Linked DNA regions of Homo sapiens. The protein of the gene in region 2 interacts with the protein of the main gene of each other region in a pairwise test. Each region holds a gene or a part of one and is shown on either strand. Other genes may lie near its edges.

Region 1 (3,657 bases), on a different chromosome or scaffold from region 2:
TTATGCCACCAAACATTTTCCCACAGCAGCACCCCCAGCACATGCTGGCTGGTCACCTTTGTTCTGTTGCTCTATTAAATCCTATCTGGAGGCGTTGCTCACTGCTCACCTTGCTCAGAGAGTCCAGCTTTAGAGAGCGGCCTCTGGAGTAATGCTTGAGTTTAATGTGGAGGCTGATTATTCTCTACCTGATTAAATCTGTCTGGGGAGCATCTTTACCATGGCCAGAAGCTAACACATTTTTTTTTTCCCCTGGCTGAAAGCTTTGACACAGAACTCAGCCAAAAGAACGATTTTTTTTTAAAATGCCTGAAGTTTTGCTTGCTGCCTCCAAGGACCAAAAAAGGAGGAAAAGAAGGTCCTGAGCCCCAGGAGATCAGATTTGCTGGGAGGTCTGATTTGCTTGAGGGCAATCATGTCGTTGACTGCAGGCTGGTGGAAGGTTCTGCAGATACTCAGTGGATGTCAGAGCCGCAGCGCCACATCCATGGCCTCCCCGATGTTAATGGGAAGAGGTACACACTCCATTCCTGCTCTTCATCACAGGTAGCCCTGTTTGAATCTAAGCAGATGAATTTGAACTGCTTAATGTACTCACTGGCTTTAAGATGAGAGTAGCTACAAGATCCCCTTTCACCTCCTCTGAGAGCTCCCCAGATTGATACCACACTGCTGTGCTGTGGCATGGAGCCTAAGGCAGTACAAAGTGGCGTGACTAAAAATCTCACTCCCTTGCCGAGTTTCTGTGCTTCACCTGTGCGAGCACACGCAGCCATTCCCATCCTCACCCCTTGCCCATGAGCCTCAGGCCAGTGCTCTGGACATTTGATGGAATCACTTCAGACTGAAAATGCCTGGGGAAGGTGATCCTACTGTAGCATCATTCTACCTGCAGAGAGGTGTCTCCCCATCTTTTTGAGAGCAAGCCAGGCACGTGTTTAGAGCATGCCTTCATCCCTCATCAGACCTCCTAACCTCCCAATGTTAAGATGTTAACATTTCTAATGTCATGATTTGAACTTGAAAGAGAGGGGTGCTTACAATAGGGAAGCAGTACTGTGCAGCTCATATTGACCTCAGACCTCCTAAAAAGCTTCCCTTCCCAGATGATCTGCAGCTAACATGTTCTGCTTAATTAGGCTGAGGCTGGATTCCTTTTCCATCCATCCAAGTTAAGGACACTAACCAAGCAAAATGCCCCCTACCAAGAGAGACTTCTCATGGCCAGGATTCCACATTCTTAATTCACAAATAAGGCAAGAGACAACTGTGGGTTCATCTCATGGCTGACTCGAACTGGAACCTTCTGACCTTCACAGGGGGACTATGTTGGAGTTCAGAGTAAAGGAATAGGTTGGAGAAATCGGGTGGCAGGATGATTAGGTGACAGTTATACACTTCAGACCACAGTGAGTCTCTAACTGCAAGCTGTTGAAATGGTCAACATATTTACTTTTCTTTTTTATTTACAGGGAAGGAGATTGGTGGGAAGCCCGCTCCTTGACAACTGGAGAGACAGGTTACATTCCCAGCAATTATGTGGCTCCAGTTGACTCTATCCAGGCAGAAGAGTATGTTTCATTTTGTTTTCACTTAACTACTTGATTTTAAAAGTTGATTGCCGCAATAAAATGCCATCAGCATTGGGCAGGAGGGAGAAGAAATTCACAGCAGTGATTAAGGCTGAGTTTTTCAGGCTTTCTGCCCCGGTTTTTACCCTGTGTAATACTTGCACTATTATTAACTTAATGTTTCTCTTGAAGCCTGCTCACTTATTTTGAAAGAAAACTTTCTATCAATACCCTAAATGAAAAGCCAGTAAAACTTGTCATAGATTAAAAGTAGCCATAAAAATATGAAATGCTAGCTAGAGCATATATTATTGCCAACCCAAGTTTCTAAGCCCGCAGTCCACTCCCTCTGTTGGGAAGAGAGGGGAGAGTAGCAAGTAATTGCCACAGATTAAACTAAGATTTTTCTCCTAAGTGTGATCAGAAATATTAAAAGAGTGCTGAAAAGACACCTTCTATGCCCGGTAAAAGTGACTCACATACAGTGTGTCCCCCCAACTTGGGAAATACTACAGTGATTTGGAACCTCAGTTGGCTTCTTTGGTAGTAAACAGTGACGAGCAGTTATTTGGCCCAACTATTCAACTGGTAGCAGTTTAGGAAGGTGTTCAGTAGGCTGAAGGGATCTAAAAGGGATAACCTTTCTCCCTTCTTCTGACCCATGAGGATTAACAGGCACTCCCAAGGGGAAGAACTGCCAGTGGCTGTTTGCCAGCCCTGAGGGAAGGAGAGATGGAGCCATGATTTCCCAAATGCAGGAACTTGGCCTCCTCCTGACACCTTGGGTCTTGCCTCTCTAAAAAGGAAGTTGAGAAAAGTCAGTCACCAAGCCCAACCTTTGGCTCTGCTATTTAATTTCACCATGGATTTGTTTAAGTAGTGCAAGAGGGATTAGACTCCACACCCTAGCCAAATCCCCAGTTGGATTGTTCTATTCTTTAATTCCTTTGTATTTCCTCTAAGAGGATCTGTTTTGTTTCCCACTCTCAAATACTCAGTGGTTCTTAGTTGTTTCTTTCTCCTAGTGACTGTGTTTCGTCATCAGTGAATCAAGGTATTTGTATTTAATTTGTATTTTAGGGCAGATTTGCAAACATCTTTGTGTTCTTTCAGAATAAAAAGTACCACCAAAATGTAGCATTACCCTGATTTAACTGGGAATTTGTCAGCTATATATTTAAGTTATTTTTATAATGGTCAACTTTTTAAATATTTTGTTTTTAAAGAATATTATTTTTTAAAATAATGCCTTCGGTTTTACATATGCAATTAACTATCATTATCTTAAAATACTATTGTTTTGGTGCAATCCATTGTTCTAACAATTCCTTTTTCACCACTGTTTTACACGGCATTCTAATTGGGTTATTGGTACAAACCCAGAAAGCCATTTCTCACAAATAATTGACGTACTAGTCTTTACGCCACCTAATGCTAGATTAAGAATTGTTGCACATTTTGGTGTTTCTAAAAGTCACTGAGGAGCTAATACGCAATGTCTCTTTTCTTCAGTGAAACTTAATTCACAAAAGAATTTGACAGTGAACTCATGATACCTATATTCAAGCATAATGAATTGAAATTTCATTTTAGAATCTGGATTCTTTCACAGTTAAATATTCTAAAAATGGTTCCCACACACAGATTCCAATTGAATGCTCCAGCATTCTCCCTTGGGTTTTGGGGGCACCTGCTGCTCATTCAGCACCTAGTGCTGAAATAGTAACTAATTGCCAGGCTTGGTTAAGGCTTGAAAGTGCAGGGGGAGGATATAAGGCAAATAACAAAAGTCTTGAGGTGACTTAATGTGATGCCTCCTAAAGTGGCACAGAGTATCATTAGTTTCTTCAGGGATAATATATTGAAATATCTGCAACACCAAGTCATTTTAAGGGCATGCTTTTTGACTGGGCACAGATCTCAAAGGTGTACAGTAACCAGTTCTTACAGTTGTGCCAAAGAAAAGATGTACAGGGTCCACCGTGATGGCTCCCTCCTGTAATCCCAGCACTTGGGAGGCCAGGGCGAGAGGATCACTTGAGCCCAGGAGTTTGAGACCATGCTGGGCAACATAGGGAGACAGTCT
Region 2 (2,749 bases):
AGGTGGGTAGGATTTAAAGACTTCTCTAGGAGCTGTGGGAGAATTTTTAAAATTCCGTTTATGTGAGATAATTCAACCTGTGTCCTAGGTTTGGAGATCGTTTCCCTGCCATGTCTGATGCCTACGACCGGACTATGAGGCAGAGGGCTCTCAGTACCTGGAAACAAATGGGGGAGCAACGTGAGCTACAGGAAGGCACCTATGTGATGGTGGCAGGCCCCAGCTTTGAGACTGTGGCAGAATGTCGTGTGCTGCAGAAGCTGGGAGCAGACGCTGTTGGTGAGAAGGGGAATTTGGCTGGAAGCTTGAAGAGGGAGGGGTTTAGCAAAATGGGAAGGGGAAGGAGTAGGAAATAACAGGCCTCATTGGACTGAGAGGATCTGATTTCAGGGAAGGGTGAATTAAACTGACTTATTGAAATACAAACTGGTGAGATTTGGTGTAGCATCAAATCTCCCTACGAAGCACCAAGGGGTTAACAGCTGCAGTGCTAATGAATGATCTATCCATGATTTGATGACTGTTTTTTGAGACGGAATGTCGCTGTGTTGCCCAGGCTGGAGTGCAGTGGCATGATCTCGGCTCACTGCAACCTCCGCCTCCCGGGTTCAAGCAATTCTCATGCCTCAGCCTTCCGAGTAGCTGGGATTACAGACGTGTGCCACCACGCCCGGTTAATTTTTGTATTTTTAGTAGAGACAAGGTTTCACCATGTTGGCCAGGCTGGTCCTTGAACTCGCGACCTCAGGTAATCCGCCCATCTTGGCCTCCTAAAGTGCTGGCATTACAGGCGCGACGCACTGTGCCTGGCCAATGTGATGACTGTTTCTAAGAATTCTAAAAAATTCACTATAGCCACCTTCTGTACCTCTAGCTGGAAGATGGAACTCTATCATTAGGATTGAGTTCAAAATTGCCACAAATATAGAAATGAAGGATTGTATTGGTAATTTTAAGAAATGTGTATTTATTTTAGGCAATACAGAAGATAATTTAGCTGCTTCTTTGGATTTGTTTTAGGTGGGGCCTTGCTCTGTTGCCAAGGTTGGAGTGCAGTGGCACCATCTCTAGCTCACTACAGTTCTGACTGCCTGGGCTCAAACAATCCTCCCACCTCAGCCTCCTGAGTAACGGGGACCACAGGCGTACACTACCACACCTGGCTAATTTTATTTATTTTTTGAGCCGAGGTCTCTTTATGTTGCCCAGGCTGGTCTCAAACTCCCGGGCTCAAGACATCCTCCTGCCTTGGCCTCCCAATGTACTGGGATTACAGGTGTGAACCACTGCACCCGGCCATCTTTGGATGTTTTTTGAGATTTTTAATTCTTGTTGAAAGCGAGGCTAAAGGGCAAGGAAAAGAGTTATTTGAGGATCCTGACAGTTGGTTTCCATCTTTCTCACTATCAGGCATGAGTACAGTACCAGAAGTTATCGTTGCACGGCACTGTGGACTTCGAGTCTTTGGCTTCTCACTCATCACTAACAAGGTCATCATGGATTATGAAAGCCTGGAGAAGGCCAACCATGAAGAAGTCTTAGCAGCTGGCAAACAAGCTGCACAGAAATTGGAACAGTTTGTCTCCATTCTTATGGCCAGCATTCCACTCCCTGACAAAGCCAGTTGACCTGCCTTGGAGTCGTCTGGCATCTCCCACACAAGACCCAAGTAGCTGCTACCTTCTTTGGCCCCTTGCTGGAGTCATGTGCCTCTGTCCTTAGGTTGTAGCAGAAAGGAAAAGATTCCTGTCCTTCACCTTTCCCACTTTCTTCTACCAGACCCTTCTGGTGCCAGATCCTCTTCTCAAAGCTGGGATTACAGGTGTGAGCATAGTGAGACCTTGGCGCTACAAAATAAAGCTGTTCTCATTCCTGTTCTTTCTTACACAAGAGCTGGAGCCCGTGCCCTACCACACATCTGTGGAGATGCCCAGGATTTGACTCGGGCCTTAGAACTTTGCATAGCAGCTGCTACTAGCTCTTTGAGATAATACATTCCGAGGGGCTCAGTTCTGCCTTATCTAAATCACCAGAGACCAAACAAGGACTAATCCAATACCTCTTGGATTTTATTTAATGTCATAATGTTGTCAGAATAAAGAGAAAGATGAAATAATTTCATTTTTTTGTGTAACTTGGTATGGGGCTGGGGCACAGACCAAGATTGACATGAAAGGATGTGAGATCGCATGTCTTGTGTGACTATCTGCTTCTCAGACAAGCAGTTAGGAACTGAGATGAGATAGTATGTGAGGGCAGCAAAGGATGAAGAAGGGCAAAATGATGAAAGGTGAGGTGGAAAGAGGTTATGAGATGGTAAAGAAAAGTTAACTTCTGGCACTTGATTGCCACTTCTGTCAGGCTGGTCCTGCCTCTCTCCCTTGCCTTCTGATTGTTTCATTTCCTGTTTATTTGATCATATCTGAATTAGTTCACTGGTTAGCCTCTTCCTTAGTTCCCACTTCCTTACCAAAGCCCTAATTATATTTCCTCTTGTTTGCCTTTTCTCTCCTACTCTTCTCTAACATCTGCAGCCACACTCTCCATTCACTCCATGCTGACAAGGCAGTGGCAAACACTTTTCTCTGCTGCCAGCCACTCCACTGTTGACTGGATTGCTGCCAGCCCCAGGCAAACCTGTGAAGTTGTTTCATACTCTGCTTCTCTTTGAGTGCCTCCTTCTCTCCTTCCTCTTCCTTTCTGGGCTCCAGTCTTTCTCTTCACTTGTGCTTGTCAGAACCTCCCTGTG
Region 3 (3,128 bases), on a different chromosome or scaffold from region 2:
ACTCCATCTTAAAAAAAAAACAAAAACTCAAAAACAATCTTCAAAGCAATAAAAAGGAATATTAAGAAAACGAATTCTAACATGAACCTTTATGTAGTACAAGTTCAGGCTCTTGCATTTTTTTTTTGGGTAGGTCTCTTTCTTGTCCAGGCTGGTCTAGAACTCCTGGGCTTAAGCGCTCCTCCTGTGTCAGCCTCCCAAAGCGTCGGGCTTAGAGGCGTAAGCCACGCACTCAGCCTCTGGAAAGGATCTTAAGGGCATGTGGTTCACCAACCTCTACTCTTCCAGGGCCAGTCTAGGGTCCCAACATCTCCATCTTCAGCCCCTAGCTCTGGGCCAGGATGTGCACACACACCCCGATAGGCGCTTCTCCCTCAGAGCTTCGCCACTGTTCGACAGGTCCAAACATGAATGTCACCTCCACTCCTGCCGTATTTGGGCTCACCCAGTTCTCCCCTGGAGGTGGCACTCCCTGTCCCTCCTGTGTGGAGACACGCATTGAAAATGACTGTCTCCAACAACCCAGGACTTTAAAGCAAGGCAAACAAACACACACCAGGAACTTGTTCATCAAGTCTCAAAAACACCAGTATTACCAGTCGTATGATTCAAGGATTTATTAAGTCATACATGCAAAACATAATGCTAATTGCATTAGCAAAAGATCAATGTAAAAACACTCCACAATTCTGCAACTGTCAATTTAAAAAATTCTGTTGTAGTGGCTGAAGGGTCCCACGCTGTATTCTCGCCAGTGAGTTAAGTTGTACAGAACATCGTCAGCACTAGCACAGTTTACAGAACCTCACAGACCCAAAGGAACATCAATAGGCAAAGCGACTACAGGAGGCGTGTGTCCGCGTGGGCGAGGTAAAGAGGGTCAGTATTGGTCAAGTGACAGTGTCGGTAATCTGGCAAGACAGTGATGTTAAGAAGGTTCATAGTTTAAGAATTATCTAAAATATTTTAAAAACTATAAAGCTGCAACACATGATTTTTACACCTAGTTACTAGAAAACTAAGGAAAGCACTTATTAGCTCTGAATAAAGTAACATGGAAAGCACTTTTACTAATCGACAAAAAAACCTTCTAATGCATTATCAGAAAGATTTTATAATACAAGGAGGCATATTGCTCAGTCAGAAGGGGTTCTATAAGAAAAGCACTTACTAAGTTAGCGACTAACAGAACAACCAGTTTAAAGATGAATTAAATGCCCAATTTGGGGAGGCATGGCAGGTGTAAGAGAAAGGAAAAGCTTAAGAAAACATTTCCTGATAATACCAACCTTTCTTTCATCATCTACTGCATTTGACAGAAATTAACCTTTTAGAGTTTTTACCCGTGACACTTTCATTCCTTGTACAATGTAGTGTAAATCTCCACTTCGTATTTTGTCAAAATACTGTCTTTGTCCTTTGATCACACACACCCCACCCGGCACACCCACAGCTAAACAGAATTCTTCATTAGAGGAAATAGCAGTTCTGTTCAAAATCTCCGCAAAAGCTGGTCAGAAAACTCGCTATGAAATCACAAAGACTGATCCAAAGAGCTGAGCTGCTACGCTCACTCCATTACAGTACAATGTTATGTCGGGAACACGTGCTGCTAACTCACTGGTGAGTTCAATGGCAACGCTTCATTCGGGAGGCTGTTCTGCTTTACGCATCTGAGAACTACATAGGAGAGCAAGTGTCTGCACCTCCTAACTGCAGAAGCTACCGTCTTCTCAAAGACGAAGGTCTTTGCAAAGTTCAGTGCTCGGTGTTCTCGGCACAACAATGCAGTGTAGTTCAGAAGGTATTTTGGCAACTCTTAATCTGAACAAGAATGGGGGGGGCGCTTTTGAAAAATAAGGCTTTAAGAAGGCTTGTCATTTTAGGGCTAAATTTTAATAGAATGTGAGTCTGAACTCTTACATTTAGAACAAACAAAACCTTAAAATTACTGATTGGTTCAAAAAATGGTTTTATGGAAAAATTAATCTGTAACAAAAAGTTGGCATTGAGTGCGAAGGCTCCACCGTTGTTTTTTTTTTTTGTTTTTTTTTTTTGTTTTTTTTTGAGCAAAGCGTACAAAGGTTCCAAGGGACAGGACCAAGAACGAGGGGCTGAGACATTTACAACAGCAGGCATTTTCTCTTCCTCTTCTTCACGGGAGGCGGGCAGAGGACTGCTCGGATCGCTTCGTCAAACACTGTCTTGAGGCCTCGCTGTGTGAGCGCCGAGCACTCCAGGTATTTTACAGCACCTACAGGAAACACGACCACACGGCAATGTACACTCGACCCCACTCTCTTCTGATCACACCACCAGCGGGAGGCAGCTCCTGGGGCCCGGGCGCCTTCTGCCGGCTCCCAGCCCTGCTTCCACCTTCCAACGCTGACGTTAAGACCCACAGGGCCTTGCCAGCTGGTTCCCCAAGAGTACACCAGGCCCTGAGTGGGAGACACACACCCTCCTTTCCCAGACTGGACTCCAGTCTCTGTCACTACAATAAAAGAGGTACAAGGAGGAGGAAAAACACAGGATTCCATACCAATCTCCTTAGCCATGGCTAGACCCTGCGGATAGGTGATGGGAGTCAGCTTCTTCTCCTTCAGTTTCTCGATCGTGTCTTTATCATCCCTAAGATCAAGTTTAGTTCCCACTAGGATGATGGGAGTGTTGGGACAGTGGTGCCGCACCTCAGGATACCACTAGATGTGAAGAAGGAACAGAGGTTGTGACACGCTCCTTTACAGATGTCCTTCACCTAAATCACACCCAGCCGGCGGCACTCATGCCAGACACCTAACCTCAGGCAAGGCCTCCCCACGGAGGCTTCAGGTGGTTCCCACCTTCAATTCAAGCCTTGAGCCATAAGGAACATCTCAGGTGTTCCATTAGCAAGCTAGGACTCCCGGATCATGGCTGGACAGAACCACGACCGGACAGAACGGGCTCTACAACCGCAGGGGAAGGGGGGAAGGGAAGAGAAACAAAAGGAAGGGAGTTCCTCCCAAAGCAAATAGATCACTTTGTTTTTGGTAAAACAATTTCTTAGGGTCATCTGAGAAAATTCATCATCTGTTCAGAAATGAGAATAAACTACCTAGCCCAAGGTCTCAGGTCTGCCGCTATTA

The links.
Region 1: the proteins of PNP (region 2) and FYN interact in binary tests that used the Homo sapiens proteins (3 or more experiments, as listed by UniProt).
Region 3: the proteins of PNP (region 2) and RAC1 interact in binary tests that used the Homo sapiens proteins (3 or more experiments, as listed by UniProt).

The regions. Positions count from the first base shown.
Region 1 is NC_000006.12:111,705,836-111,709,492, reverse strand, and holds part of FYN (tyrosine-protein kinase Fyn), read left to right. Parts: intron 1-436; exon of another isoform or gene 437-487; coding exon of another isoform or gene 488-546; intron 547-1,472; coding exon 1,473-1,571; intron 1,572-3,657. UniProt on the Homo sapiens protein: Non-receptor tyrosine-protein kinase that plays a role in many biological processes including regulation of cell growth and survival, cell adhesion, integrin-mediated signaling, cytoskeletal remodeling, cell motility, immune response and axon guidance.
Region 2 is NC_000014.9:20,474,974-20,477,722, forward strand, and holds the end of PNP (purine nucleoside phosphorylase), read left to right. Parts: intron 1-88; coding exon 89-279; intron 280-1,410; coding exon 1,411-1,628; 3' UTR 1,629-2,116; downstream 2,117-2,749. UniProt on the Homo sapiens protein: Catalyzes the phosphorolytic breakdown of the N-glycosidic bond in the beta-(deoxy)ribonucleoside molecules, with the formation of the corresponding free purine bases and pentose-1-phosphate.
Region 3 is NC_000007.14:6,401,442-6,404,569, reverse strand, and holds the end of RAC1 (ras-related C3 botulinum toxin substrate 1), read right to left. Parts: intron 2,703-3,128; coding exon 2,543-2,702; intron 2,255-2,542; coding exon 2,124-2,254; 3' UTR 603-2,123; downstream 1-602. UniProt on the Homo sapiens protein: Plasma membrane-associated small GTPase which cycles between active GTP-bound and inactive GDP-bound states.